3 linked regions of the Homo sapiens genome follow. The protein of the gene in region 1 purifies or fractionates together with the protein of each later gene. This does not show direct contact. Each region holds a gene or a part of one and is shown in the gene's direction. Other genes may lie near its edges. The genes, in order: KLK2, SERPINE2 and GLG1.

Region 1 (7,451 bases):
TTATGGCTGGATGTCTCTGCCCCGGAAAGGGGGATGCACTTTCCTTGACCCCCTATCTCAGATCTTGACTTTGAGGTTATCTCAGACTTCCTCTATGATACCAGGAGCCCATCATAATCTCTCTGTGCCCTCTCCCCTTCCTCAGTCTTACTGCCCACTCTTCCCAGCTCCATCTCCAGCTGGCCAGGTGTAGCCACAGTACCTAACTCTTTGCAGAGAACTATAAATGTGTATCCTACAGGGGAGAAAAAAAAAAGAACTCTGAAAGAGCTGACATTTTACCGACTTGCAAACACATAAGCTAACCTGCCAGTTTTGTGCTGGTAGAACTCATGAGACTCCTGGGTCAGAGGCAAAAGATTTTATTACCCACAGCTAAGGAGGCAGCATGAACTTTGTGTTCACATTTGTTCACTTTGCCCCCCAATTCATATGGGATGATCAGAGCAGTTCAGGTGGATGGACACAGGGGTTTGTGGCAAAGGTGAGCAACCTAGGCTTAGAAATCCTCAATCTTATAAGAAGGTACCAGCAAACTTGTCCAGTCTTTGTATCTGACGGAGATATTATCTTTATAATTGGGTTGAAAGCAGACCTACTCTGGAGGAACATATTGTATTTATTGTCCTGAACAGTAAACAAATCTGCTGTAAAATAGACGTTAACTTTATTATCTAAGGCAGTAAGCAAACCTAGATCTGAAGGCGATACCATCTTGCAAGGCTATCTGCTGTACAAATATGCTTGAAAAGATGGTCCAGAAAAGAAAACGGTATTATTGCCTTTGCTCAGAAGACACACAGAAACATAAGAGAACCATGGAAAATTGTCTCCCAACACTGTTCACCCAGAGCCTTCCACTCTTGTCTGCAGGACAGTCTTAACATCCCATCATTAGTGTGTCTACCACATCTGGCTTCACTGTGCCTAACCAAGATTTCTAGGTCCAGTTCCCCACCATGTTTGGCAGTGCCCCACTGCCAACCCCAGAATAAGGGAGTGCTCAGAATTTCGAGGGGACATGGGTGGGGATCAGAACTTCTGGGCTTGAGTGCAGAGGGGGCCCATACTCCTTGGTTCCGAAGGAGGAAGAGGCTGGAGGTGAATGTCCTTGGAGAGGAGGAATGTGGGTTCTGAACTCTTAAATCCCCAAGGGAGGAGACTGGTAAGGTCCCAGCTTCCGAGGTACTGACGTGGGAATGGCCTGAGAGGTCTAAGAATCCCGTATCCTCGGGAAGAAGGGGCTGAAATTGTGAGGGGTTGAGTTGCAGGGGTTTGTTAGCTTGAGACTCCTTGGTGGGTCCCTGGGAAGCAAGGACTGGAACCATTGGCTCCAGGGTTTGGTGTGAAGGTAATGGAATCTCCTGATTCTCAAAGGGTCAGAGGACTGAGAGTTGCCCATGCTTTGATCTTTCCATCTACTCCTTACTCCACTTGAGGGTAATCACCTACTCTTCTAGTTCCACAAGAGTGCGCCTGCGCGAGTATAATCTGCACATGTGCCATGTCCCGAGGCCTGGGGCATCATCCACTCATCATTCAGCATCTGCACTATGCGGGCGAGGCCGGCGCCATGACGTCATGTAGCTGCGACTATCCCTGCAGCGCGCCTCTCCCGTCACGTCCCAACCATGGAGCTGTGGACGTGCGTCCCCTGGTGGATGTGGCCTGCGTGGTGCCAGGCCGGGGCCTGGTGTCCGATAAAGATCCTAGAACCACAGGAAACCAGGACTGAAAGGTGCTAGAGAATGGCCATATGTCGCTGTCCATGAAATCTCAAGGACTTCTGGGTGGAGGGCACAGGAGCCTGAACTTACGGGTTTGCCCCACTCCACTGTCCTCCCAAGTGAGTCTCCCAGATACGAGGCACTGTGCCAGCATCAGCTTCATCTGTACCACATCTTGTAACAGGGACTACCCAGGGCCCTGATGAACACCATGGTGTGTGCAGGAAGAGCGGGTGAAGGCACGGACTCCTGTGTGGTCAGAGCCCAGAGGGGGCCATGACGGGTGGGGAGGAGGCTGTGGACTGGCTCGAGAAGTGGGATGTGGTTGTGTTTGATCTCCTTTGGCCAGATAAAGTGCTGGATATAGCATTGAAAACGGAGTATGAAGACCAGTTAGAATGGAGGGTCAGGTTGGAGTTGAGTTACAGATGGGGTAAAATTCTGCTTCGGATGAGTTTGGGGATTGGCAATTTAAAGGTGGTTTGGGATGGCATGGCTTTGGGATGGAAATAGGTTTGTTTTTATGTTGGCTGGGAAGGGTGTGGGGATTGAATTGGGGATGAAGTAGGTTTAGTTTTGGAGATAGAATACATGGAGCTGGCTATTGCATGCGAGGATGTGCATTAGTTTGGTTTGATCTTTAAATGAAGGAGGCTATTAGGGTTGTCTTGAATTAGATTAAGTTGTGTTGGGTTGATGGGTTGGGCTTGTGGGTGATGTGGTTGGATTGGGCTGTGTTAAATTGGTTTGGGTCAGGTTTTGGTTGAGGTTATCATGGGGATGAGGATATGCTTGGGACACTGGATTCAGGTGGTTCTCATTCAAGCTGAGGCAAATTTCCTTTCAGACGGTCATTCCAGGGAACGAGTGGTTGTGTGGGGGAAATCAGGCCACTGGCTGTGAATATCCCTCTATCCTGGTCTTGAATTGTGATTATCTATGTCCACTTCTGTCTCCTTCACTGTACTTGGAATTGATCTGGTCATTCAGCTGGAAATGGGGGAAGATTTTGTCAAATTCTTGAGACACAGCTGGGTCTGGATCAGCGTAAGCTGCTCTGGTTTTATTGAACAGATGAAATCACATTTTTTTTTTCAAAATCAAAGAAATCTTATAGAGTTAACAGTGGACTCTTATAATAAGAGTTAACACCAGGACTCTTATTCTTGATTCTTTTCTGAGACACCAAAATGAGATTTCTCAATGCCACCCTAATTCTTTTTTTTTTTTTTTTTTTTTTTGAGACACAGTCTGGGTCTTTTGCTCTGTCACTCAGGCTGGAGCGCAGTGGTGTGATCATAGCTCACTGAACCCTTGACCTCCTGGACTTAAGGGATCCTCCTGCTTCAGCCTCCTGAGTAGATGGGGCTACAGGTGCTTGCCACCACACCTGGCTAATTAAATTTTTTTTTTTTTTTTGTAGAGAAAGGGTCTCACTTTGTTGCCCTGGCTGATCTTGAACTTCTGACTTCAAGTGATTCTTCAGCCTTGGACTCCCAAAGCACTGGGATTGCTGGCATGAGCCACTCACCGTGCCTGGCTTGCAGCTTAATCTTGGAGTGTATAAACCTGGCTCCTGATAGCTAGACATTTCAGTGAGAAGGAGGCATTGGATTTTGCATGAGGACAATTCTGACCTAGGAGGGCAGGTCAACAGGAATCCCCGCTGTACCTGTACGTTGTACAGGCATGGAGAATGAGGAGTGAGGAGCCACCGGAACCCCATATTGTTTAGTGGACATTGGATTTTGAAATAATAGGGAACTTGGTCTGGGAGAGTCATATTTCTGGATTGGACAATATGTGGTATCACAAGGTTTTATGATGAGGGAGAAATGTATGTGGGGAACCATTTTCTGAGTGTGGAAGTGCAAGAATCAGAGAGTACTGAATGCCAACGCTTCTATTTCAGGAACATGGTAAGTTGGAGGTCCAGCTTCTGGGCTCAGACGGGTATAGGGACCAGGAAGTCTCACAATCCGATCATTCTGATATTTCAGGGCATATTAGGTTTGGGGTGCAAAGGAAGTACTTGGGACTTAGGCACATGAGACTTTGTATTGAAAATCAATGATTGGGGCTGGCCGTGGTGGCTCACGCCTGTAATCTCATCACTTTGGGAGACCGAAGTGGGAGGATGGCTTGAGCCCAGGAGTTGGAGACCAGCCTAGGCAACATAGCCAGACCCTCTCTCTACAAAAAAATTAAAAATTAGCTGGATGTGGTGGTGCATGCTTGTGGTCTCAGCTATCCTGGAGGCTGAGACAGGAGAATCGGTTGAGTCTGGGAGTTCAAGGCTACAGGGAGCTGCGATCACGCCGCTGCACTCCAGCCTGGGAAACAGAGTGAGACTGTCTCAGAATTTTTTTAAAAAAGAATCAGTGATCATCCCAACCCCTGTTGCTGTTCATCCTGAGCCTGCCTTCTCTGGCTTTGTTCCCTAGATCACATCTCCATGATCCATAGGCCCTGCCCAATCTGACCTCACACCGTGGGAATGCCTCCAGACTGATCTAGTATGTGTGGAACAGCAAGTGCTGGCTCTCCCTCCCCTTCCACAGCTCTGGGTGTGGGAGGGGGTTGTCCAGCCTCCAGCAGCATGGGGAGGGCCTTGGTCAGCATCTAGGTGCCAACAGGGCAAGGGCGGGGTCCTGGAGAATGAAGGCTTTATAGGGCTCCTCAGGGAGGCCCCCCAGCCCCAAACTCACCACCTGGCCGTGGACACCTGTGTCAGCATGTGGGACCTGGTTCTCTCCATCGCCTTGTCTGTGGGGTGCACTGGTGAGATTGGGGGGATAAAGGAAGGGGGGCGGGTTCTGACTCTTATGCTGAAGCCCTTTTCCTCCCACCCAGTGCCCCAGCCTCGTCCCTTCAGCCCACAGTTCAGCCCAGACAATGTGCCCCTGACTCTTCCACATTGCAATAGTCCTCATGCCCACACTAGGTCCCCGCTCCCTCCCACTTACCTCAGACCTTTCTCTCCATTGCCCAGCCAAATCCCTGCTCCCAGCTGCTTTACTAAAGAGCAAGTTCCTGGGCATCTCTGTGTTTCTCTTTATGGGGTTCAAAACCTTTCAAGGACCTCTCTCCATGCCACTGGTTCCTTGGACCCTATCACTGGGCTGCCTCCTGAGCCCCTCAGTCCTACCACAGTCTACTGACTTTTCCTATTCAGCTGTGAGCATTCAACCCTGTCCCCTGGACCTTGACACCTGGCTCCCCAACCCTGTCCCAGGAAACCCAGATTCCACCAGACACTTCCTTCTTCCCCCCGAGGCTATCTGGCCTGAGACAACAAATGCTGCCTCCCACCCTGAGTCTGGCACTGGGACTTTCAGAACTCCTCCTTCCCTGACTCTTTGCCCCAGACCCGTCATTCAATGGCTAGCTTTTTCCATGGGAAAAACACGAGCACCCCCAACCACAACGGCCAGTTCTCTGATTCCCTAAATCCGCACCCTTTTCAAAACCTCAAAAACAAAACAAAACAAAACAAAGCAAGAAACAACTCAGGCAGAACTGTTTGCTTAACCTTGGACATGGTAAACCATCCAAAACCTTCCTCTCCCAGCAACTAAACCTCTCCACTGGGCACTTATCCTTGGTTTCTGGAACCTCTTATTCTCTTAGAACCCACAGCTGCCACCACAGTGTCCCTTCTCCCAGTGTAAGACCCCAAATCACTCCAAATGACCCAACCCCCAACCCGATGCCTGCTTCAGATGTTTCCCATGTCCCCTACTCTGATCTCTGGGGTCAGCTCCGTTCTCAGAGCATGAAGCCTCCCGACCTGGTCCAGCCACCAACCCGCTAACGCAGGGAATAGCTACAGAATTGCCAGCCCTCCCAGGACCCCTTGCTTGTGTCCTGGACTCCCAGTCCTGGTCCTCTGCCCCCATGTCTCTTCAAACCCACAGCTCAGCTCCCTCCCCTATCCAATTCTTTTGGGTCTGATCCCCCTGACCCAGCACCCCCTCCGCAGGTGCCGTGCCCCTCATCCAGTCTCGGATTGTGGGAGGCTGGGAGTGTGAGAAGCATTCCCAACCCTGGCAGGTGGCTGTGTACAGTCATGGATGGGCACACTGTGGGGGTGTCCTGGTGCACCCCCAGTGGGTGCTCACAGCTGCCCATTGCCTAAAGAAGTAAGTAGGACCCTGGGATCTGGGGAGGGAATGGCTGTGTCCCACAGGAATAACAGCGGGATGCTTCCCCCAGGGTCACTTCTCAGGTGAGGCTTCAGACTAAAGGAGAGAGGGAAGGTCCTGGCCCAGGTCGCACCCGGAGGCAGAGCTGGGGCTGGACCACTCTCCCCATGGCTGCCTGGGTTTCTCTCTGTGTCTGATCTCGCTGTGTCTCTTGGTATCTGGCTCTGGTTGTGTCTGTATGACTGTGTTTTGGTCTCTATGTCCCTCTCTCTTTTCTGTCTCCCTGTGTCTGTGTCTCCCCCGTCTCTGTCTCTGGGTCTCTCTGTGGCCATCTCTGTCACCGTGTGTCTCACCCTGCATCTCTTTGCCTGTCTTTCTCTCTGGGTCTCTGCCTCAGCCCTTCCTCATCACTACTGAACACACCCCGTGAGGGTGGGTGGGGAGCACCCAGAAAAAGGAAGGACTTTAAGCTCAATGTGTGTGCATGTGAGGGGGTGCCTGTCATTGCACAGCACTCTCTGCAGGACATCCCTCCACCCTGGGGAGACACAGGGAGGGCTGGTTTCAGCTGTAGCTGGGTGCACAATTGAGGAGGGAGGAAGGAGAAGGGGAAACAAGAAAGGAGGGGAAGGTGGCCGGGCACGGTGGCCCACGCCTGTAATCCCAGCACTTTGGGAGGCCGAGGTGGGTGGATCATCTGAGGTCAGGAGTTTGAAACCAGCCTGGCCAACATGGCAAAACCCCGTCTCTACTAAAAATACAAAAAGTAGCCAGGCGTGGTGCTGCGCGCCTGTAATCCCAATTACTAGGGAGGCTGAGGCAGGAGAATCGCTTGAACCCGGGAGGGAGAGGTTGCAGTGAGCCGAGATCGTGCCACTGCACTCCAGCCTGGGTGACAGAGCAAGACTCCATCTCAGAAAAAACAAACAAACAAACAAACAACAAAAAAAATCGAAAGGAGGGGAAGGGAGCTGGAGAGAGAAAGGGGGACGTGGCCCTGAGCTGTGGGCCGGGCCACCCGCCACTACAGAGCCCTCACTCCAGCCCCAGCTGCAGGTGAGCCACCCTCATGCCTCTCCTCCTCCCCCTGCTACTCCACACTCCTCAGATGCCCCCGTGGCCTCCCTCCTTTTTCTCTCCCACACTGTATCACCCCTGGCTTCCTCTCTGCTGTTTCTCCTTCTCTCTCTGACTTCCCGCATCCTTTTCTCATTTGTCTATTTCTCACTCCCTTCCTGGTTCTGTTCTTTCTCCCTTCCTCTTCCCCATGTCTATTTCTTGCTGTCTCTGTCTCTTCTTTGCTCATCCTAATTCTCACTGTTCTCCCTTCTGTTTTTGTCATTCCTCTGCCATTTTATGCTCTCTCTTTTCCACTTCGTTTCTTTCAGTTTCTGTCTCTGCCTCTCACATGATCACACTCCTGTTTTCTAACTCACTGTCTGTATTTCACCACGACTATATCTCCCCGACCCCTGTGCTTTTCTCACTGTTTCTTTTTCTTCCCTTTGGAGTCTCCCTTATCCTCCCCTGCCCCATCTACCTTTCCCCATTTTCTCTCTCCTCATGCATCCACCCCCTT
Region 2 (7,102 bases), on another chromosome or scaffold:
CATCCCTGGTTGCCACCTTCTGGTTTTCCTTATTCCTCCCTGGCATCTCTGCTACCTCTTGGGGTTACCCAGGGTTCGCTGTCATCCCTTTTGTGCTCTGTGTATTTGGGTGAACCATGTTCCCACAGCTTCGACTCTCACCAATATGAAGCGAGTCCCAGATTGGCATGTTAAGCTAGCTTGAGCATGCTCCTGTGTTCCAATCAGTTACCTGCAGTCTGGTGCGCTTACCCGTGCCCTTTAGGCCAAAAAAACACCCCAAAATAAATCCAAAATTGATTTTAGTTTTCACCACCCACCCCATATCCGCTTCATTGTTAGCGAAGATTTGTCCGTTTTTTTTTGGCAGTGGTTCCACCGTTCATGGAGATGTTGGAGCAGGGGTCTCACGGTGATGCCAGGCTCCCGCACTGCCCACATGCAGGCTGTCACCAGATCCTGTTGCTTCTTCATGCTGTGAAATTCCACAAAGGTCCGCTCTAGTCACGCTGGCCTTGCCTTGCTTTAGAGCCCAAAAGTGGCAAAATGGTGGCCGGTGTGCCACTTCTAGCAGTAGGCAGCAGTGTTGTTGGCCTGAACAAAGTATATACAACTTGAGTTAATATTTAGAAATCTGGAGATGCCACTTGGATGTATAGCTTCTCCTAAAAGCCAGAAGACCTGGATGAGGCAGTGCGTGGTGGCTCATACCTGTAATCCCAGCACTGTGGGAGGCTGAACCAGGCGGATCACTTGAGGTCAGGAGTTCAAGACCAGCCTGATCAACATGGTAAAACCGCGTCTCTACTAAAAATACAAAAATTAGCTGCGCCTATAATCCCAGCTACTCGGGAGGCTGAGGCAGGAGAATCGCTTGAACCCGGGAGGCAGAGGTTGCAGTGAGCTGAGATGGCGCCACTGTTCTCGAGCCTGGGTGAAAGAGTGAGACTCTGTCTCAAAACAAAAACAAAAACAAAACAAAAAAAACCTGGAATAGGAAGCTTACATTCCCATGTGGCAAACCTCAGCTGCTGCTGGGTTTCCAGTGCCTGAATACACTGGAGGTAGGTTGCTTTCTGGTTCCCCCAGACCTGTGACCCTTGCTTATAGTGGCGTTCTGGCTCCCATGGGCTTCAGAGCTAGAGACCCTAGGCTGAGACGATCATCGACAGCCTGGGAATGCCTAGTGCTTACTGCACAGTGTCGTGCACCTCATGTTGCATCCCTTCTAACTCTCTTCCATGTTATTGCTGGTGTGACTTTCCTCCTGCTGCCCCAAATCCAAGTCTTCTTGGGTCCCTCCTAATAAAATTCAATGGCTCCCTCTTGATCTGGGCTTAAATCCCTGACTCTAAAGGAGTGGCCATGTCATATCACAAGTTTGGTATCTCAAGATTGAAAGATGAGCTCTCCGCTATCTTTATACAGTGTTGTACCCGAGTTTCTGAAGATGCTTTTGAGCTTCTGTAGGGTAGTTAATACAGAGTTCTAGTGTTGATGACAGTCCTGCTGTTTACAAAGCATTTCTACAAGCCTGACTACTGCCCCACTTCCTCGCAGCCCCCCTGGGTGGAGATAGGGCAGGGTCGATTCTATATCCCAAACAGCAGTGGGGAGTCTGTAAATATGGAGGCATAGGCCATCCCAGGGAGTCCCCCACCCTTGGAACATGGGGAACCTTGTTTTACATGTGGTATCCAGAGTCATACAGTGTGTTCCTGAGGTCATTTAGACACCTTAGGGCAGAGTCTTGACCCAGAACTCAGTTCCTGTCAGCATGCAGCCAGGGAACTTTCCACAGTGCTCCATGGGCTCACCAGGCTGCTGGCCATTTGTAATGACCCAACAGAGTCAAAGCTTTCTTCACTCCCTTCCCATCTCCTTGCCTTGTCCCCTGCCTGAAACATTCTTTTCTTGCAAAACTGAACCTCCCGTAAACTGCACTGGTACCGCCCAGTGCTTTTCTGCCTTTGCTCCTTCTGTACCTCTGCCTGGAATTCCCTTTCTCCTCCTGTGTTCATTGTCTGGCTGATTTCTCCTTTTTCAAGACTCAGGCTCAAAAAGGCCTTGCTGGCAGTCACCACCCCAGCCCTCTGTGGCACATGTGCAGTGTACACACACGTCACCCCTCCCCGTGCCTACCTCAATGATGGCAGTTTTTTGTGTTGTAGCAACATGCCCTATCCAGTAGACTCTAAGCTCCAGAAAGACGTGCCTGTGTTTTAGTTTTATTTGCACCAGCGGTGGTGTGTGGCCCAAAGGCAATTAACAGATGTCTGAACTAAACCATATTCATATTTTTTGTAAGTTTACTGCATGCTTTATGGAAGAGTGTTTGTATTCCAGACTCAAAGGGGAGCTCTCTCTGCCAGACCTCCAGCCCTCATTTTGGTACTAGCAAATTTAATATATATCCTCAGACATTTTAAATTTTTGATTAACCTTGTCTTTTGAGATAAAACATTACTTAGAGAAAAGCGGAAGTCTAATACAGAAGCACTTGTGTGCCTGTGTTCACTTCAGTTATCCTCATCTGAACCTCCCTTTGGCATGGTTCTGCCCTCCTTGAGGTCTGTTGGCTGGGCTGCACTCTGCATTTCGTGGTTTTACAGGGTAGGAGAATGCATTTTGGTTTATTTCTATTAACTTTGGTGATGGTGATATATGACCTCTTGGTGACTTTTTTTTTTTTTTTGCCATGGAACTTTTTTGGCTGGTATCGTCAGTCACATTTGGTGGAAAGAGCAGGCTGGGAGAGGGTATGGGCTGCACCACCAATAGAGCGTGTAGGTTACCATCTAGAACTCAGTTTCCTTGTCTGTATAATGGGTATATTGAAATAAATGATCTAAAAGGTGTCTTATTTTTAAAACCTATAAATTCTTGGCTCAGTTTCCTTTTGATGTGGCTTTCTCATAAGTGTTAAGTCTAGATAAAATTTTTTCGTAAATGCATTATCCTGTGCTCATACACCTTAAAGTTCTTGTCTCTCACTTTTTTAAGCCTATAAAATCATTCAGCATTATATTCAGAAACAGCATCATGGGCCAACATGAAGATTTAGTTTGTATTCCCACTTAGAGCATTTATAAAAATTTTAAATAAATTAGGTCCCATATACTTGAATCTTGTCAACCTGTTCTCCACACATAAATGTGCCCATCTTCTCTTTGCAAACCATCTTTCCTCATGAGTAGATTGCACGCCTAATCTGAAAACCAATGTTGGGTTTTTAAAAAATACCCTTAGATACAGAATGGAGTCAAATGCAATAAACTACATCTTTAGGTTATCTCTTGTCTGCAAGTTCCCAATTTAAGAATACTGAGAGATTAGTATGATTTTATTTCTCTTTTGAGAAATACCACCTCCCATCCAACAGGCCAAGTCTATTTCTACAGTCAGTGAGTCTTGCCTTTATTCTGCTGTTAGATTTCTAGGTCTGGATGTAAGCCCAGTCCAGGGAAGTCGGCATCCCTTCTGGGATTCTTTCTGTGCATGAGGATGGCCACTGAGCCCAAGCAATCCTCTATTTGTAATTCCACTCGTATGTTTTGGCAAACATGTCCTAGGATTCCTCCAAAGGTTGGGGTGGACACCCTAGTTCAAGATTAGATCAGGAACACCCAGGCTTTTGCCACAGTTTGACGTAAGACATTATCCTTTGCTTCAGAAGATCATTTGAGAATTGGAATTTACATCCATTGTGCCTTTCCATTTTTCTTATTTAATTCTTTGAAGAATAATATGAGGAGACTTTAATATAAAAGAAAAAATCCCATCAAGAGTCAGAAAGGATTTCCTGTTACGGCTGCAAATCTTGGTAAATGCACTTTGTTTTTGTAAACCGTGCCCCACCCCCAACCCCTAGTGTGAACTCGTAACCTGGGGAATTTCTCTTGAGAGCATACCAAAAATAGCATCAGTGCCTTCTCTTACCCCTACCCCAACTTTCGCCCTCCATGTAGTTCCAGCAAATATAGCTATAGAAAAAATAACCACTTGTTTTTATCCTAAGTTTTTATGGGCCAAATCTTGAAGGTGGATGTGGGTATGTGAAAGAGTTTAATGCCAAATACAAAGCCCACTCGGAAATGAATAAGGTGACTACAAATGAAAATGGATGTTTCTTTCTTCCTTTGGGGAAAGTGCTATGTAAATAAAGGCAATGTTTGCTTCCTCTACTAAAATTTATTTCTGCAGTTTTTAAATAAGAAATCCACTCAAGAAGTTATTCTTACTGAGGATTTGGTCACTGTTAAGATTATAGGAACTATTAACTACTGCATTATCTTTTGCTTACAAGAGAACAAACCCAAATCAAAATAACTCGGAAACAAGGCGGAGAGCTGTTGGCTGACACTGCCCACTCAAGCATGGGAGAGGTGACTCTGGCCCTGAAGATGACTGGAACCAAAGACTGAGGACTTGGAGGCTTTCTTCTCTTTCTCCTTGCCTCTCATCTCTGCTTCTGTCTGCTGATTGTGGTTGTCCTCTCCGGGACCATGACTGTAGGTAGCTCCAGGCTTACCTCCCTACAGCCTCCTCAGTGAGGAGGAAAGAGGGGCTTTTCAGCCAGTTCCAGCCGGCGGGGGGGGTGGGGGGTGGAAATCCTAGGGAGGAATTCTGATTGGCTTAGTTTCAGTCACATGCTGTTCGCTGTACCAATGGCTGTGGGCAGAGGAGTGAGGTCCTATGATTGGCTGATGCTAAGTCACATGGTCACATGCTCGTCCCGATACCAATGGCTGTGGGCAGAGGAGTGAGGTCCTGTGATTGGCTGATGCTAGGTCACGTGGTCACATGCCCTTCCGTGTACCAATGGCTGTGGGCGGAGGAGGGAGGTTCTATGATTGGCTGAATCCCAAATCACATGGTCAATCCTTGGTTAGGAGGAAAGGGAGTGGAGAGGACCGTGCTGCCTGGCGTTCCCCAGCTGCCTTTCTTTCTGTTTTCCCCCCAACGGAATCTCTATGTGGTCTCCTAGAGCCTCGTGCCTGCCTCTCAGCTAGATGCTGATATCATTCCCACTCATGTAGTTGGGAAGGAAGGGTGTGGCAGAGATAAAGGGTCCACGGTCACGCAGTATGTGGGGGGTCACACAGCCTGTATGCCAAAGTGGCACACCCTGTGAATATGTAGGGTCGCACAGCCTTTATGTGTCAGTGCCAGAGCCTGGACCCGGGTCTGTAGATGTGTGAACCGTGAGCTGATACCATGGATATTCAAAGATTTACATCCCATCAATGTTTATACCTTCTTGAGAAGAAATTTGTGTCAAAGCACACTCCTCCTTTCAAGACTACCTCCTCGCCGTGCTGCGTGATAGCCCTAGTATCACAACCAAAACACATGATACAGAAAGAGGCCAGTATCTGTGTGGTACGTTTGAATCATGGTTTTATGCCTTTGGCCCCCTAGTTCCTTCCTCAGACACTTGTTTTTTTCTGGGACTGAAATCTAAAATTAGTACTGACCTTTGGATTGAGAAGGTAGAGAGATTTACACAAGAGTCCAAGCGAATAACTTAAGCTGAGCTGGATAAAACTCAGCAGAATCACAGAACAAGTGTGCCATGACTTTTCAAACATGCCTAATTGAACTCTGTTTGCGATTTAACTTCTTTTTCAAAGGTTTATAGTTACCTTTATTTCAAAATTTGTCATTTTAAAATATGTGTTTCCTCCTTTTCCTCCACTGTATAGTAATTAAGAGTGTGGAGGATTTGGAGGCCAGCGGGCTTTGGTTTGAATCTAGAGGCTACATATTGGAGGGTATGAGCCAAAGCCAAATTTCTAAACATCTCCAAGCCCATCCGTGAGTTGGGCCTAAAGGTGTTTAGGCTTAAGGGCCACCCCTGAAGTGTTGTGAGGATGAAGCGAAGAGTATATCTTAGGCGCTAAGCACAGTGGCAGGAATGGAGCTGACTTTCGGGACACGAGGTGGCTGTGGTTGTGGCATTGGGTAATATTTGTCACAGAAGTACAGGTGAGCACTTCTCTGAGACTCATGTCTTCCTCGTGTCTTTGGCCTGATGAATGAGTGACTTGCTCTGTGTCTTTGCATGCTTTGTTTCCAGACACCTTTCCTGCTGCACTCTCAGTGGGCAGTACTCCCCAATGATCACCTGGTCATCTGTCCTGCCCGCAGGCTTCAGGCTCTTGTGCGTTGGCCATGAAGCAAAGGAAGGCTGTTGCATGAAATAACCTCCTTCTGACTCCACCCTTGCATTTGTGAGATGTAAACAGCAGTGTTACCAAGAGGTCTTCCAGGGAACACGTTGCAGGTAGCCCTGTCATGCTGGCTGCTTTTTTCCATTAGGTTAGTTGTGAATAACGAATAAATGTCTATGCAGGGCCAGACATGTCTATGCTGGCTCACGCCTGTAATCCCAGCAGTTTGGGAGGCTGAGGTGGGCAGATCACTTGAGGCTCGGAATTCAAAAACAGCCTGAACATAGTGAAACCCTGTCTCTACTAAAAATGCAAAAAATTAGCTGGGCATGGTGACGCACGCCCGTAATCCCAGCTACTTGGGAGGCTGAGGCATGAGAATCACTTGAACCCCGGAGGCGGAAGTTGCAGTAAGCAGAATTGTGCCACTGCACTCCAGCCTGGGTAACAGAGGGAGGCTCTGTCTCAAAATAAAACAAAACAAAAAATGTCTATACAGTAGGAAAAATAATCTATTTGGTTTAATATTTAGGTCTCTGCAAGGGTAGCATCCAGAGGCTTCTCTTTTCATTCTTGTTTTTCTGACTGTGAAAAAATCATTCTACTGTGTCCAGTGATGTCCAGATACCAAGAAATAACTATTTTAAACATATGGTGAATATTGTTAAAGCACATGGTGATGGTCATTTAATTATGATTTGATTCCGTCAATATGCAAAAGAGTTCTAAGAATGTTGGGTTAACCTTAGCAAGCATTCCCAGATAGGAAATGTGTTTTCTGCTACCATTGATAGGATTTTTTTAAGGATTTTACTGGCAGTTATCCACTTTGGACTTCATACAGCAGTCTGAGTATATGCCCACACCTGAGTTGTTGCTCTAACAGTGAGATTAGGGGATGCCAGGGAGAATCTGTGTGATGACTTAATTGTAAGGGAGAGCTTTCTTTC
Region 3 (8,084 bases), on another chromosome or scaffold:
CCCAAAGTGCTGGGATTACAGGCGTAAGCCACCGCACCTGGCCTCCATATCTCTCTTTTATAATAAGCTCATGATAACTAATCACAAAAAAAAAATGTTCCATTGGGAGGATGGGGATTGGTGAAGATTAGAGCCACCATTACAGACCTAAAGAATGCAAATGTGGTTCTGAAAGATGGTGGAGAGTGAAAACTTTTCCAAACTAGTGGAAATGCTGGCTGTGCTCTTAGTCATTCCACTTTGTATGTAAGATGAGAATATATACAGATTCCTGGACAAAGTCCAATGGCCTGGCCTGGAGTAGAGGCATGTGGATGAACGTGTGGGGGTGAGTACAATATATAAAGATTTTTGTATCTCTTAATAATGCCCTCCAGAAAGCCTCCACCATAGAAGAGGCACTGAGCAACCAAGTAAGCAAAATGACACAGCCAATTCACATGAGCTAGCCTCTAGCTCCTCCTGACCCGACATTCTGGGCACGTGAACAGAGCAGCCATAGCAGCAGACATGCAGGTTCCATGTGAGCTCAGTAGCATGGACTCCCACTCACCAAGGTACATCCAGCTACTGCTGCCCCTGAATGTCCAACTTGTCAGCAACAGAGAGCAACACTGAGTCTTTTTTTTTTGGAGACAGAGTCTTGCTCTGTCGCCAGACTGGAGTGCCCTGGCGCAATCTCGGCTCACTGCAACCTCTGCCTCCTGGGTTCAAGCGATTCTCCTGCCTCAGCCTCCTGAGTAGCTGGGATTACAGGCGCACGCCACCACGCCCAGCTAATTTTTGTATTTTTAGTAGAGACGGGGTTTCACCGTGTTGGCCAGGATGGTCTCGATCTCTTGACCTTGTCATCTGCCCGCCTTGGCCTCCCAAAGGGCTGGGATTACAGGCGTGAGCCACTGCGCCCACCCTGCAACACTGAGTCTTTGATAGGCACTGTTTTTTTTTTTTTTTTTAGACCGAGTCTCGCTCTGTTGCCCAGGCTGGAGTGCAGCGGCGTGATCTCTGCTCGGAGCTGCAACCTCCACCTCCTGGGTTCAAGAAGTTCTCCTGCCTCAGCCTCCGAGTAGCTGGGATTACATCCATGAGCCACTGCGCCTGACCCCCTTTTTTTTTAAATTTTTTAATTTTTTTATTTTTCTGAGACAGGATCTCACTCTGTCACCCAGGCTGGAGTGCAGTGGCATAATCTCAGCTCACTGCAACCTCCACTTGCCGCTTTCAAGTGATCTTCCCGCGTAAGCCTCCTGAGTAACTGGGACTATAGGTTGCACCATTATGCCCAGCCAATTTTTGTATTTTTAGTAAAGGCCTGACCTCAGGTGATCCACCCGCCTCGGCCTCCCAAAGTGCTGGGATTACAGGTAGGTGTGAGCCACCATGCCTAGCAGGCCTTCATTTTGAATGCTTATTCCCACCTCCTTAGAATCTTGAACTAGTTATTAATGTCTGATTTTGGAACACTTAGAGTCCTCTTTTCATGGTTGCACTTGGGAGGCCGAGGCAGGCAATCACCTGAAGTCAGGAGTTCGAGACTAGCCTGGTCAACATGGTGAAATCTCTCTCTACTAAAAATACAAAAACTAGCTGGGCGTGGTGGCAGGCGCCTGTAATCCTAGTTACTTGGGGAGGCTGAGGCAGGAGAATCACTTGAACCCGGGAGGCAGAGGTTGCAGAGCTGAGATCATGCCATTGCACAGCAGCCTGGGCAACAAGAGTGAAACACTCCATCTCAAATAATAATAATAATAATAATAATAATAATAATAATAATAATAATAAAAGAACAAATTCTCAACAGCCCAGGTGCAGGGCTGACACCTGTAATCCCAGCACTTTGGGAAGCTGAGGTGGAAGGATCACTTGAGCTTGGGAGGCTGAGGATGCAGTGAACATGATCATGCCATTATATTGTAGTCTGGGTGACAGAACAAGACCCTGTCTCAAAAACAAAAAAAAATACTAAAATTACAAAAAAAAAATAATTAGCTGGGCGTGGTGGCACACACCGGTAGTCCCAGCTACTTAGGAGGCTGAGGCGGGAAGACTGCTTGAGCCCAGGAGGTTGGGGCTGCAGTGAGCCACAATTATCATGCCACTGCACTCTAGCCTGGGTGACAGAGGGAGACCCCGTCTGAAAACAAACAAGGAAAATGCTCATGGCTGGGCCCGGTGGCTTATCCCTGTAATCCCAACACTTTGGGAGGCCAAGGTAGGTGGATCCCTTGAGGTCAGGAATTCAAGATCAGCATGGCCAACATGGTGAAACCCCGTCTCTACTAAAAGTACAAAAACTAGCCGGTTGTGGTGGTGCACGCCTGTAATACCAGCTACTTGGGAGGCTACAGCAGGAGAATCGCTTGGACCCAGGAGGCGGAGGTTGCAGTGAGCTGAGATCACAACACTGCACTCCAGCCTGGGTGGCAGAGCAAGACTCCGTCTCAAAAAAAAAAAAAAAGAAAATGTTCAACAGATACCTGCTTGATGAATAAATTAAGAAAGTGAGGATCAGGAAACAAAGGATACAATAAAGGGTAAAAAGAACTCCCCGTTTCTTGGCTGGGCACAGTGGCTCATGCCTGTAATCCTAGCACTTTGGGAGGCCGAGGAGGATGGATCATAAGGTCAAGAGATTGAGACTCTCCTGGCCAACATGGTGAAATCCCGTCTCTAAAAATACAAAAATTAGCTGGGCATGGTGGCGCACACTTGTAGTCCCATCTACTTGGGAGGCTGAGGCAAGAGAATTGCTTGAATCCGGGAGGCAGAGGTTGCAGTGAGCCGAGATCGCGCCACTGCACTTCAGCCTGGCGACAGTGTGACTCCTCTCAAAAAAAAAAGAAAAAAGAATTCCCCGTTTCTGATAGAGATAGTATATGTTATATTGAAAAGGCAATGAGACCAGAAGACCTGAGTTAAGGCAACTGTCTTTCCGTGGGTTTGGGGGCTCGTGGCTTCCGTAAGGTCTACGCTTGCCTGACAGCCTGAGCTGGCCAGGTTCCCAGATTTATCTGTTTCTTGCTTCTTGGTGACTGAGATTTCAAGATAGCCATGTGTACTCCTCCCTATCTCTGGAGGCAATCTGTGGCTGTGGTTTCCTCAGTTCAGGCTGAAAGATAAGTAACTGATGGCTTATCTAGGATTGTCAATTTCTAGTTAAACTGGCTTAAAATAATCTCCCACTTGTCTGAACACATGCAGACTCAGCATTGAAAATTAATGGAGGCCAGGCGCAGTACCTCACGCCTGTAATCCTAGCACTTTGGGAGGCTGAGGTGGGCAGATCGCCTGAGGTTTGGGGTTCGAGACCAGCCTGGCCAACATGGCAAAACCCCGTCGCTACTAAAAATACAAAAATTAGCTGGGTGTGGTGGCACATGCCTGTAATCCCAGCCACTCGGAGGCTGAGGCAGGAGAACTGCTTGAACCCAGGAGGTGGAGGTGGCAGCTCCGAGCAGAGATCACGCCACTGCACTCCAGCCTGGGCAACAGAGTGAGATTCCGTCTCAAAAAAAAAAAAAAAAAATTAACATACGCTAGTGACATCTCAAGGACTTCTGGTGATGTGTCCAGCCTGCCTGACTGAAACTTACCTATGCCATGTGTTTGCTAATAAACATGGGGCTGCCTTAGTCAGTGCTCAAGGTTAGCAGCAGCCTCATGATCATTTTATGACAGTAGCAAAGGTGACCGTTGGTGGAGATGCCAACAAGCTCTCATTCCCCATGATAGAGGCCTGGGGTCAGCCACAGTGGGTAATTTGTACTCACAGAATATCTTCAGTCTCAGGAGCTCCTTTTGGGTTCCCTGAGCTCCTGACTTTTCAGGTTCTAGTTATGTCTAACTTGGTCTTGACTGCTCATTTGCGGGTCAGGACAGCAGAAGCTGTCTGTTTACTACAGTAGATGTAATTCGCATTTTTGGACACAATGACCAGTGGAGATTACACAACCCAAACTGCCCTCATTCCCCAACATGTGCATGGACAGAGTGGGATGAAAGTGCGCCAGGGTGGTGGGAAGCCCCAGGGATTCTGGTGGCTAGCCTAGCTGTCTACAGGATGGCAGAGTTCCTCTTGGGCAGCTCATTTAATCCCTCCACGCAGAACTGTTAACATCTCTGTGCCATTCTTCAGTTAAATGAGAACCTAACGCAGGCCTGATGCATGGCTCAGATTACACAGCGGATGTGAAGAGGCTTTGGGAACATATCCTCTCTCCTAAGGACAGGGAGGGGATGCTAGTGTGGGGTGCCTGCGGTGTTGCATGCAGGTCAATGAGAACAGTTACCGACACACAGACTTAACCCGAGTCCTCAAAGATGTGTTTTATTATTATTTTTTCATCCTTTAAACATGAATCTAAATGCTGGCTTAAAATCAGGATTCATGCATAAACGGCTTCCCAGTTTATTAACAATACTGGCTGTGACTTTTTGAGTTCAGTGTTGTGGGCCAGGCACTTAAATTATTATTTCGAATCTTGCCAATGGTACTTTACATTTGAGCTCTTGCGTACCCTGCCAGAGCAAGGATTATAACCTTAATTTTTTTTCTTACCCCAGAACTTATGCTCTTAACCCTATTCAATGCTGTCTCTCTCTTTGGCTAAGAAAGACTTCTGAGGCAGATGGAAGGAAGGAAGGAAGGAGGGAGCGATACAAGGAGAGGCTTTCCGATTCCGTAATACACCTGGTTGTGCAAAGTTCACCTCTACATATAAAGTTTTTGTTTTCCAAGTCATTGAACCGGCGACATATTCTACCGGCCATTTTGGTTGTGGCAACCCCAATTCCCTTGATTTTTTTTTTTGTGACAGCAAATGGAATTAGAGTAGGCCGCCCTGCCCGGGCTTTTTAAGAAACCCCAGCAACCCCCCCGGGTAAGGAGCGCCGCTCTCCCGCCCGCCGGTCCAGGGTGTGTGCGGTTTCCAGCACGGCCTCCTCCTTCGCCCCACTCTGGGTTCGCGGGTCGGCGCCGGCGGGGCGGGGCTCGGCAGGGCCACGCTGCCACGCCCAGCGTCTCCACCCCCTCATTTAAATACGCGGCGCCGGCGAGTGCGTCGAGCTCGCCGCGGACTCAAGATGGCGGCGTGTGGACGTGTACGGAGGATGTTCCGCTTGTCGGCGGCGCTGCATCTGCTGCTGCTATTCGCGGCCGGGGCCGAGAAACTCCCCGGCCAGGGCGTCCACAGCCAGGGCCAGGGTCCCGGGGCCAACTTTGTGTCCTTCGTAGGGCAGGCCGGAGGCGGCGGCCCGGCGGGTCAGCAGCTGCCCCAGCTGCCTCAGTCATCGCAGCTTCAGCAGCAACAGCAGCAGCAGCAACAGCAACAGCAGCCTCAGCCGCCGCAGCCGCCTTTCCCGGCGGGTGGGCCTCCGGCCCGGCGGGGAGGAGCGGGGGCTGGTGGGGGCTGGAAGCTGGCGGAGGAAGAGTCCTGCAGGGAGGACGTGACCCGCGTGTGCCCTAAGCACACCTGGAGCAACAACCTGGCGGTGCTCGAGTGCCTGCAGGATGTGAGGGAGGTGAGGAGGTGGGACGAAGCCGGGAGGGCCAGGCCTGGTGCGGGCCCGAGGGTGTTGCCGGCCTTGGAAGCCGCTGACGCCGGTCGGCTGCTTTCCTTGCTTCCTCTGTGCTGCACTCGCTCCTTCCCTCTTTGCTCCTCACTCCCAGGCGCTTTCAGGGAAAAGGATACCACTCCCACTCCTTCTTTCCCCCGCCCTTATTTCCCTCCCTGTTGCCGGGGTCTGGGACGAAAACCTGGGCTCCTGGCCGCAATCCGCCGAGGCCCAGAGCGTGTCTGTTCGCTCCTGTCTTTTGTGTGATGCTCTATGCAGAGTGTCTCCTCGCCGAAGATCAGTTTAGGATTTTGCCATCAGTTTCGACTAGGACAATTTGTGGCAAGCCATTTAAACATAAAAAAATGCCTGGCGTACTTAGGCTGTAAAGAATGATCTGTTTATTAGCAGTAGATGTAATTCGCAAATCCATATTTTTGGTGCTGAAATTAATGTATGCTTTGTTTTCTTCACTTCCTTTGGTCAGTTGTATTGAACCCCATGTTTAAGCTGTTAACTCCCAGTGACTTGGCGCCCCAAAGCTTGAAAAGTTGGGGAAGCGTTTGAAGCTGTGTTTGTGACTGGGTTATGGGATCTTGCCTTTCTGAGGTCTGAATGTGATTTTAACAGTATCTCTTAATGAAATCTACATTTGTCGTTGCTTGGTGTGATTCAGTTGAGTGACATTGATAATTTATAATCAAGTGACATTGATAATTTATAATCTAGGTTTAATGCTGCAGACCATAATGACAATTCTCAAAGTTTGGGAGCAAATCTGACAGTAGTAACTTTTTCCAGAGGTGTAGGTATATAAAATTAGCCCTAAAGGTGGACAAATAGAATGAAGCTACCACTTGATACTGTTTTTGGTTTTTTTTTTAAATATCAGATTTGTTTAAGGCGTTCAAGCTATAGCAAGACCACTTGCTTGTAGAAATTTGCTTCTCTTGGCATTTCCCCCCTTCATCTCGTGTTCTAGTATTCTATACAAAAGCAATTCAGATAGAGGAAAAGACATACATAAGCAGGAGACAGAAAGAAAGGAAGTTTCCAGAGCCCCTAGAAATGTGAGGCCTTACCTGACTTCTCATCTTCAGCTTAACGACTAGAGGGATAGTCCTCTGGTAGATACAGCTAATATTCCTAACTCTGTCGAACTTTTTGGAATTTTCTTTTCGCTCTTTGAGGACACATAATAGATGTCGTTTCATCAAACTAGGATCCTAATACTGGTGACCAAACAATTAGTAGTAGTTTGTGGTAGAAACAGCACATTATTAGGGAAAGTGGCAAAAAGTGGCCTATTCAAGGAGTGTATATATCCTTCATGTGTATTCCGGACATTTGGAAACCTCCACTTAAAGGAGGCAGTTTTATGCTCCAGAGGAGGAAAGGCGTCATATAAATTGGAAATGGGGGTTTTGGGGGGTTGGGGGGAGGTGGAGGGACCAAATTTCCAATTTAATGTTTTTTCCTCCAGTTTTTACATACAGAAATAATGAAGGAAGAGTACTGTGAACACCTATGTGTATTCTTCAGGAGGTGGAGTTATTTTTAAACTTCTTTTCTTTTTTTTGAGATGGAGTCTCACTCTGTCGCCAGGCTGGAGTGCAGTGGCTTGAACTTGGCTCACTGCAACCTCCACCTCCCGGCTTTAAGCAATTCTGCCTCAGCCACCTGAGTACCTGGGACTACAGGCGAGCGCCACCACGCCCAGCTAATTTTTGTATTTTTAGTAGAGACAGGGTTTCACCATGTTGGCCAGGATGGTCTCGATCTCCTGACCTTGTGATCTGCCAGCCTCGGGCTCCCAAAGTGCTGAGATTAGTGGTGTGAGCCACCACCCCCACCCTATTTTCTTTTTCTTTAAAGACAGCGAAAGGAAATTTCATTCTGCTTAGTCTGGGAGTTAATTAAATCTGATCTATGTGTTTGAAAGAGCATAACTTAAAGAAGTAAACTAGTTAGGCACATTTGAAGAAACATGTATAGAATATGTTTTGTATTTGCTGTTCAGTAAGTAGAACTATTTGATAGTGAAATAGATATATGTACTTTTCTGTCCCTTTGCATGCAAATGCAGGGAACATTTTCCTATCCGTACCCATTATTGGAATTATGAAAAGGCAGAGCATATGAGTACAGTTGTTCCTTGGTATCACTGGAGGATGGTTCCAGGCCTCCTGCAGATATTGAAATCCAAGGACGCTCAAGTACCTTATACCGTATAAAATGGTGTCGTATTTCCATATCATCTGTGCACACCCTTCCGAATTCTTGTCTTCTCTAAAATACTTGTGATACCTAGTACAGTGCCTACATATCAGTTCATTCATGTGGATTCACTGTAGTACTTGGCATATGTCAAACTTAACTTTTGCTTTTTGGAACCTTATGGAACTTTTCTTTCTGAAAAAAAATTTTTTATTATGGAGACAGGGTCTCGCTCTGTCATCCAGGCTGGAGTGCAGTGGTGCAGTCATAGCTCACTGCAGCCTCAGTCTTCTGGGTTTGAGAGTTCACTGAAG

The links.
Region 2: the proteins of KLK2 (region 1) and SERPINE2 purify together in Homo sapiens (affinity purification with mass spectrometry; 3 studies listed by BioGRID and IntAct, with this or other methods). This does not show direct contact.
Region 3: the proteins of KLK2 (region 1) and GLG1 purify together in Homo sapiens (affinity purification with mass spectrometry; 2 studies listed by BioGRID and IntAct, with this or other methods). This does not show direct contact.

The regions. Positions count from the first base shown.
Region 1 is NC_000019.10:50,869,012-50,876,462, forward strand, and holds the start of KLK2 (kallikrein-2 isoform 1 preproprotein), read left to right. Parts: upstream 1-4,427; 5' UTR 4,428-4,462; coding exon 4,463-4,508; intron 4,509-5,709; coding exon 5,710-5,869; exon of another isoform or gene 5,870-5,955; intron 5,956-7,451. UniProt on the Homo sapiens protein: Glandular kallikreins cleave Met-Lys and Arg-Ser bonds in kininogen to release Lys-bradykinin.
Region 2 is NC_000002.12:224,029,235-224,036,336, reverse strand, and holds part of SERPINE2 (glia-derived nexin isoform b precursor), read left to right. Parts: intron 1-4,858; exon of another isoform or gene 4,859-5,361; intron 5,362-6,129; exon of another isoform or gene 6,130-6,265; intron 6,266-7,102. UniProt on the Homo sapiens protein: Serine protease inhibitor with activity toward thrombin, trypsin, and urokinase. Promotes neurite extension by inhibiting thrombin. Binds heparin.
Region 3 is NC_000016.10:74,604,093-74,612,176, reverse strand, and holds the start of GLG1 (Golgi apparatus protein 1 isoform 3 precursor), read left to right. Parts: upstream 1-5,062; 5' UTR 5,063-5,082; coding exon 5,083-5,520; intron 5,521-8,084. UniProt on the Homo sapiens protein: Binds fibroblast growth factor and E-selectin (cell-adhesion lectin on endothelial cells mediating the binding of neutrophils).